Linked DNA regions of Homo sapiens: region 1 is linked to region 2. The links come from fine-mapping of genetic effects on gene expression. A gene starts in region 2. The other region holds a variant in brackets. All regions are shown on one strand. Distances are between the middles of the regions. Region 1 has its middle 59 kb from the start of CASC2. Region 2 holds the start of RAB11FIP2 (RAB11 family interacting protein 2).

Evidence for each region. PIP is the estimated chance that this variant, and not a neighbour inherited with it, causes the effect.
Region 1: its variant is the best candidate, but not a certain one, in a credible set for the expression of RAB11FIP2 in monocytes (Fairfax 2014, PIP 0.58).

What each region holds. Positions count from the first base shown.
Region 1 is chr10:117,985,704-117,990,102 of GRCh38, reverse strand. No RefSeq gene overlaps it. Among named protein-coding and RNA genes, the nearest start is that of CASC2, 59 kb to the left of the region's middle. The variant T/C (reference allele first, on the strand shown) is at 2,396.
Region 2 is chr10:118,045,090-118,049,488 of GRCh38, reverse strand. It overlaps RAB11FIP2 (RAB11 family interacting protein 2), which reads left to right and starts at 2,548. Exons shown (of 5, transcript NM_014904.3): 1 at 2,548-3,678. The coding sequence starts at 3,326. CASC2 (cancer susceptibility 2) reads right to left here and starts at 2,668. Exons shown (of 4, transcript NR_026940.1): 1 at 2,386-2,668. RefSeq lists a silencer at 2,621-3,110.

The DNA.
Region 1 (4,399 bases), 59 kb after region 2:
TAGGGGAAAATGTTTTGAGTACCTAAGTGTTGGAGGATTACATTATGCCATACTCAAAAGGAAGAAAATAACCGCCTCTAAGGACAAGGCAATGTCAATCAAGACTCCGGACTAATCCTATTATTCTCTTAGGAAAACAGAGTCACTTCTCTGTGCCCAGAATGTATTTCAGCTCACATTAGGACTGTGACTTTTTCTTTCTTTAAAAAAGTCATTTGAGAAGATTCACTCTACAGACTATGCTTGGGATTTCTGTTTATGTGACTTTCATTTTGGGACTTGACAAAACACCATACTACCAAGCATGTCTTTTATTTCCATTCAAGAAGTATATTCCAATGATTAGAAAACTGAGGTGAATTCATGAAGGAATATAGCAAGAAGAAAGGCAGTCCTCAACCCTTCCTCCTTGCCAGGAGTTGGAAGTCATAGAATTTAACAGGTAAGGTCTCAAAGTACCCACTGGGAAGAAAGATTTGGGCCTTGCCTTTTGGTGTGTATGAGTCACCAATAAAATGGAGAGAATCACCTACCTTTCAGGTCTGAAGATGAACACAAAGAGTTTTTGAAGTCTTCTGAGGTTCTCAAGAAAAAGTATGTTAATTCTGGAAGTACACCTTGGATTCTTAGAGCAATGAAATATCACTTTCCATTGGGCAGGAAAGAAGAAGAAAGCTGGATGATGCCAAGTGTTGGTGGGGATATAGGAATATAGGCGCCTTCCTACACTGCTGGTGAGATGGGAAGGCAGCGCTGTGCACAGTACGCACCTTATGGCCCAGCAATCCTGTATTTCGAGGTATACCCCAGACAGATGCTTAGACAGGTTCCTAAAGGACTGGTACAAGTTTTTCATAGTAGGACCTGGAAGCAACTGGGGAGAGTGGGCAGGTAAAACACAGTCCAGGCATACCCTGTACACATACACACACACACACACACACCCCTCCAGATAAAATGACTTGAAAAAAGTCCTAGCCACAAAAAAAAGGGAAAAAGTTGAATGAGATTTCTAGAATAGCACAGTTTATGTAAATTAACAATATTTGCATACGAAATGACAGTATGCATTTTACAAGGACACATACAAACAAAAGATCCCAGTCAACTGGAATGGTTGCATATGGCAGGGCAGGCACATGATGGGAGTAGAAATGATGATAGAAGGAAATAAATAAAATGTAATTAAAAAGTACAAAAAAGGGACGCCATGCAGAGAACGATGCTAATAGTGTACTATGAATGTGGTAGGATGGATTCAAATCTCTACATTTCAAGTGCTGTCCCTCCCCCAAATGTATAATACACACACACACACACACACACACACACACACACACAGAAGGTGTTGCAAGATAGTGACACATGGGCAAAATCAGGCCCTCAGATATGTTTTGTTTGGTCTATGCAGTACATAAAAGTGGCTTGAATTAGTTGCCAATACTTAAAATGCAGGTCTTCAGCTACTCTAAGAAGATCCAACAAGCTTGGGCTGAAGACAGCAATCCCCATTTGTGCTTGGCGGCTTGCCCCATCCCTAAAGAGCCTGAAGTCTGCTGGTCACCATAGTCCTTATCCTTTCTGCCCTGAAAAAGGAGGAGGATAGGCTCACACTTTCCTTTGCACGGTGAGCTGAACCAGATGATTCTCCTGTTCCATTTCCTGCCTGGCCCCTAATCGGATACTGGTTGATACAGTGGTCACCTGCCCTCGCTATCTCTCATCCTCTCAGAAATTTGGTTCTACCAGATCAAGTGGTTGAGGCAAGGATTGGGCCTTTTGCTGAAATGGGAGAGGCAAGACAGGAGCAGGGTGGGGCAAATTCAGAGCCCCCTTTCCACCACGACATGTTTCAGATGCCCATTACATATCCAGGTGGTGAAATTAAACAGACAGCACTTATGTGAGTGTGGAGTTCTAGGGAGAGGTCAAGGTTAGAGGATAAACAGTTGGGCAACACTGACATGAATGGTAAAGATGTGGGACCAGATGAGATCACTCAAAGTATGGAAATAGAGAAAAGAAGGAGGAATAATGAAAACAGGAGGGGTTGAGAGGGGAAATGCGAACAAGATATGAAAATTTGGGAGAATTCCCTGACAGCAGGCTTTTTTCTCGAGAGCAATAATCAATTAGAGAGATCTCAAAAATGTGTCACTGATTGCAAAAGCATGCTGCAGAATGACGTGTAATATGGTAGTATTTTTGACTATTGAAAAGAATATACAAAACAATACAAGGTATTTTTTCATGAATGTATAAAGTCTGGATGGATGCATAGCCTCTTGAGAAAGACAGGAGAGCAGGGCTGGGGAGGGTAGCAACAGGGCTGTAACCATCTATAGTGTTCTCTTTTATTTATATTGTTTTATTTTATTATTTAATTTTAAAATAA[T/C]TTTAAAGTAATTTTTAATTTTAAAATAATTTTATATTATTTAAAAACATTTCAAAAAATAACTATGACAATGAGCAATTTTAGTGAAAATGAAGATGAAATTAGGAATATTGGAAATCTGTACAGTACTTTGAATAGGGGAATTTGCACATAAAATATATGTAAACTCTTAATAGTATGTGTCATGGTTAATTTTATGTGTCAACTTGACTGAGTCAGTGGGTGTCTGCATATTTGGTCAAACATTATTCTGACTGTATCTGTGAGGGTGTTTCTGGGGCCAAGATAACATTTGAATCAGTATTCTGTGGAAAGCAGGTTGTCCTTCCTTATGTGAGTGGGCCTTAGCCAATTGATTACAGACCTGAACAGAACAAAAAGCTGAGTAAGAGGAACTTTGCCTGCCTGGTCCTTGAGCTGGAGCATTGATCATCTCCTGCCTTCAGACTGGAACTTACACTGTCTGCTCTCCTGGTTCTCAAGCCTTCAAACTCAATCTGGAACTACACTGATAGGTCTCCTGAGATCCAGCTTGCCAACCTCAGATCCTGAGACTTCTTAGCCTTTGTAATCATGTGAGCCTATAATAAATCTCTTTTTCTCTATATGTATATCTGATTAGTTCTGTTTCTCTGTAGAACCCTGCCTAAGACAGCATTTAATAGCAAAATTACCACCTTTGTTTTATTCTCAGCAAATTGAACTGGGCTATTCAACATACCTTTGATTGCTGATGCAAGTCTTTTTTTTTTTCTTTTTCTCAAAAGCATTTTTATCAAAGGAATGCATGCATATAATTTTAAATGTTTCAAATCACTGTAAGGCAAAAAATTAAAAATAATAGTCCCGTGCCCTCCTTACCCACTGCCCAACCCTGTTTTAGCTCTCCAGAAGCTTCATTCATTTCTTCTGATATTTATCTCCATTTCTCACAATTATAGTGCACACTGTTGGATCATCACTTTTAGACATTTGCCATTAATTCCCTATTGTGCAGGATGAAGTCAATTTTATCTTATACTTCCATTCTCCTCCCTCTCTCCCTTTCTCAAAATATAGGGATACCACAATCGTAGATTAAATTCACTGTTAATGTTTTAATTAGTATTATTCTACAAATGTAGCTCATCATCTACTGAGCCAAGTAGAATACCAGGATTACAGTTACCTTTTTGTACTATTATTCTACAAATGTAGCTTATCATCTACTGAGCCAAGTAGAATACTAGGATTACAATGACCTTTTTGTACTAATGTTTTGTTTTTCCCAGACTTAACCCTTCCTTCCTTCTTTCTATTTTCCTTTCTCTCTTTTTTCCGGATTTACTTGTTTTTCTTTCTTAATTTTCTTGTGAGGCAGACTAGTAGTTTCTGGAGCCCCATTCCTTGGGTTCAAAACCATCTCTGCCCCTCGCTAGCTGGGTAAGCTTGGGCAAGTTACTTCCCGTTTCAGAGCCCCCATTTTTTCATCTATACAGTGAGATTGATAATGGGATGGCCTTACAGGATTGTGATGAGAATTAAATGAGTTAACATAAGTGAAGCACATAGAACATAGTTGGGTCTTCTCTTTTTTAATCTGCTTTGATAATACCTGCCTTTAAGTGGAAGTTTAATGCATTAAAGTTTAATGTAATTATCAGTATGGTTAGAATTAGGCCTACCATTTTATTTGTTTTCTAATTGTCACCTCTCTTTTTTACTTCTGTTTCCCTGCTTCTGCCTTCTTTGGAATTATTGTAATAATTTGTCTTTTGAATTTTTAGATATCACTATACACAGTTTATTTACTTTTATTTTTTATTCTTAGTGATTGCTCTAGGGATTACAAAATCCATTTTTTACTTTGCACAGTCTACTTACAGTTAATATTGTACAATTTCATAAAAATTATGGAAATCTTGCAACTATTTTGATTCATTTACTACCTTACTGCCATCCTTTTTGCTGCAATTGTCATGTTTTTCATTTACATATGTTATAAACCTCACAATATTATAATTT
Region 2 (4,399 bases):
ACATAATGTACATGGGAGCATTAACACGCTTGACCCAGTGGGCTATTTAAACATGAGAGCATTATAATTGTTCTGCAACAGATTTGCAAGATGTGATTTTAGAGATGCCTTTGTCCAAAGGGAAAATCTCCCCCAATGTCTGGAATAGGTCTCCTTATGGGACTTATTCTTTATGGGACTGAAAGGGGCAACATGTAGTAAATATTTTCATCTGTGAAATCCTCTACTCATGGGGAATAAATATTGACTATTTTAACTTTCTGGTCAAAGCATTCTTATTCATTGCTGTAGGCATTGTTAACAGTTTAAAATTAGAATGTTCAGCATTTTCCTTCTAAAATATATTATTTTCCCAAGACTTTGATTTTGGAATTGTACCATACATTTCCGGATGTATCATTAGTCATAGGATAATTTTTTAAAAAGTGACTCTCTTCAATTCTGGTATGTTGTCCTTACACACGCAATCCTTTCCTTTTTAAATTGTTGTCCATGTATATCTTAGAATTAGTCAAAAGAATTTTTAAAACTGTAAAACAATAAACATTTTGGGAGAAGCACTTTGATCCCAGATCTTATGTAATTGTCATTATTTTTCACTATAAGCCAACCATATCTTTGACTCCACTGTCATATTTTTATTCTCTTAATATAATCAAAAAAGGAAAACATTCTATAGGAAGTCATTTCCTTATTATAATGCAATCCCAGATTCTATTTAGCTCATTTGGTTTGTTTGTTTATTTGCTTTCCCCGGGGGCAAAAATATGTTATTTTCTTATTCTGGCTTAAAAAATTTTAAGTCATAATTTCTGATTTCACCAGTAAAACTAAACAATTTTGGCTCTAGCCAGCTGTTGGGAAAACTCAAAAGAAATTTAGGTGCTACAGAAAGAGAGGTTAGTAATTCCAATTGTTCAGCTCTTGCCTTTAGAGTATTCTCTGAGTTGTGTTGGAGTATGTTATTGAGTTGCTGTGAACTACTGCTGCCAACTTCTACCCTAGAGATGGCTATATTTCAGAGATGAGTGAAATTATATTTGTAAACAAGTTTATAATCATTAATAAAGCTTACCAATTTAAGCTCTTCAGAAATACACATCCACTATTATAATTTTCTATTGTTTAATTACAACCTTTAATAGAGACATGAAGACTTTTAAAATGTATAAGAACTCTAAACTTAATTAAATTTGATTTCATGATGTTTATTTGGTTTTTGTAAGTTTCAGGTGTCAAATTATTTCTCCTTAGAGATCCTGGTGAAATTCCACCATTGACTGTTCCAACGTACTGTTTAAAAATCCCTAAGAATATTTTTCTTTAAAGTTGACAACTGTGCACTCTGGGATCCAGATGCTATATTCGCAGTACGATGATTTTGTTCTGTTTTCCACACATGGCCTTTTCATACACTGTCTCCCAGGGATGAAAAATTCTGCCTTGAATGAGAAGTTTTAAACCTTGCTTGAAAATAATAAACACGATACTTTACATGTTTATGGCCATTTAAGTTAAAAAAACGTGCATTTACATGTATCATATTGTTTTACTCTCAAAATTAGTCTTGTAAAGGGAAAAAAGGCATTAAGTAATTCAGTAAATTGTCTGCTGCATGCTAGCCACTATGAAGGGACTGCATGATAGACAAGGCAGTCCCAAAACTTAGAATTTCCTTGGGAAGGTAAGACACGAACAGAATTAACAGCAATGGGGTGGTACATAAGCGTCTCTTCCAATTGAGAAATAGAGGGGCAAAAGGAGATTTATGTGCCGCATTGTGCTAGGAAAGGCACATGTATTATCCCCTGAAACTCGAAACCCGTGTTTGGGGCATGGTCTCCACATGATTTGCACAGTCCACCACAGTGTGAGTCCCCACGGGGGTCCTTTTGACGTCGAGCCCATAGAGTCGTGATGGAGTCTTAGACATGAGGTAGAACTGGCTTTTTTACTCGTGAAAACACTGAGGCTCATGGAGGTGAAATGACTCGGCCAAGGTCACACACACTGATAGCGGCAGAGGCGCGGCCGGAACCAGGTCTTCTGATGCCAGCCCAGTGCCTCCCTACATCTCTACTCCCTGTGGAAACTATTTGCTTCCCTATCGCCCTTCGTCTGGGTGGGGGATGTCATTTTCAGTCAATTTACGGACTTTTCAAAAAGAGAAGGGTGGATAGGAGATTGGAGAAAAGTTTCCTTTCGGTCAGTGAAGAGGCCTGATTCGTTCCAACACCATTTATGGACCTGCTCCTGCCAGGCACTGGGCATCCAGGACACAGCGAACACAGATCCCCTGCCCTCAAAGACGCCCTAGTTAGGGGCGTCTCCGGGTCTTTGATGACCTCCTCTCACGAGCGGTCCCCAGCCCTCCCCAGGGCTCACCTGCCGGCCTCTGCAGGTACCCACGTCCCTAGGACCCGCCACTGGGCCAGGCCCAAGCAGCATCAAGCCCCGGGTCCCCGCCATTGCGCCCGCGTCGCGCGCCTCCAGTCGCCACGGCAACCAGGGAGGTGCTGACCCCTGACCTCGAGGCCCCGCCCCTTCACGTTCCCGAGACCAACATGGAGAAGGCCAACCCGGAAGTGCCGCCGCAGCCGCCCGCCCGGTGTTAGGAGCCGCCGGCCGGGCCAGGCCGAACCAAGCGCCCGCAGCCCTGCAGCCCGCTGCCCGCCCCACGTCCCGCCGGCGCCGGGGCGGCCGCGTTCCCCGCCCTCCCCCACTCCACCCCTGGCTACCCGCTCCCGCCCGAGAGGAGGAGCTGAGGCGAGGGGGAGGAGGAGGAGGGAGAGGTTTGCGAGAGGGAGCGAGGCCGCGTTAGCCGCCGGCGGTTCGTATTACCGGGGTCGGGAGGAGGAGCCGGGCCGAGCCTGCGGACGAACGCCGGGCGGGCGGGAGGCGCGGAGGCAGCGGAGGCTGCTCGGCCGCAAGGAGGCAGGCGGGAGGCCAGGGGTGCAGAATTGGGGCGGGGGCTCCCTTCACCCCCGCAGCCCTCCGCCCGGGTCCGTGTGGCCAGGCCTCACGTGCCCCGCAGGCCTGGGGAAGGTGGAGACAGGGGCGGGGGTCCGCGCAGAGGCCTGCACGGCGCGGCCAGGTGATGGTGGGCCTCTGTGTTTCTCCAGACGAAAGGGGACCCCCGGAGCGGCCGTGCCCCTGGGCTGCCCCCGCGAGGCGTTTTGACATCAGCCATAGGGAAGTCGGGGAGCCCTGAGCCTGCCTGTTTCCGTTAAGTGTCCTTAGGATGCAGTGATTAAGGAATTAGGCTCTCCCTCCGGGAGGGGCACTGCCTGTGCTAGGGAACTCGGGGGCAGAGAAACAGGACAGGATGATGCTGTCCGAGCAAGCCCAAAAGTGGTTTCCAACCCACGTGCAGGTCACAGTGCTCCAAGCCAAAGATCTGAAGCCAAAAGGCAAAAGTGGTACCAATGACACATACACTATAATTCAGCTGGGCAAGGAAAAGTACTCCACCTCTGTAGCTGAGAAAACCCTTGAGCCAGTTTGGAAGGAGGAGGCCTCTTTCGAGCTACCTGGATTGCTAATTCAGGGAAGTCCAGAGAAATACATTCTTTTCCTTATAGTTATGCACAGGTCCCTGGTGGGTCTGGATAAATTTTTAGGGCAGGTGGCAATCAATCTCAATGACATCTTTGAGGACAAACAAAGAAGGAAAACAGAGTAAGTTATGTAATTTATTTTGAATTTGGGGGAGTTTATATCTTATTTATGGTTTTTCTGTTCTTGGAAATTATCCGTATACTTCGGGCGTTGGTTTTTGGATTGAAATATGATCCAGTTTTAAGCACCATATTTGCATGAATCTGAAGTAAAAGTAGCACTCGTGATGAAATATTTTTTAAATGGAATCATTAATGATCCCTTATTCTTTCTGTTAAACATCTGTCAAATAATTGAATATTTTGTGGTGGATTTTAAGTAAGTTAACATTGTTTCAGTATGAGGACTGGATCACAGTATTGACCAACTAGAACTTCATATAAATTGTTATGGATTTTAAACCTTACAATTATCAATGAAATGGAAGATGAGAAATTAAATCTGGCAATGTAATGTTGATGTGTCGCACTTTGTAGCTGTCAAAAGATAAATCACCAGATTTAGAACTCAGTATTTCGTTTCAGCGTTATAAACACAGCTTTTATTTTAGCTCAGCCATTTTTCAGGGTCAGTGTGCCTTGATGGGAGTCTATACCTGTTAGAAAAAAAAAAAGTTTTAAAAGTATGTACAGACATCCTCAACTTCGAATGCACTTACATTTTCCTTTGAATTTGCAATTACATCAGAGTTATTGTATTCAGAATTGATTTTCCAAAGCTATTGTGTTTAGACCATATTAAATGCTGTAGGATGGAGAGAATGATAAATTTTTGTGATGAA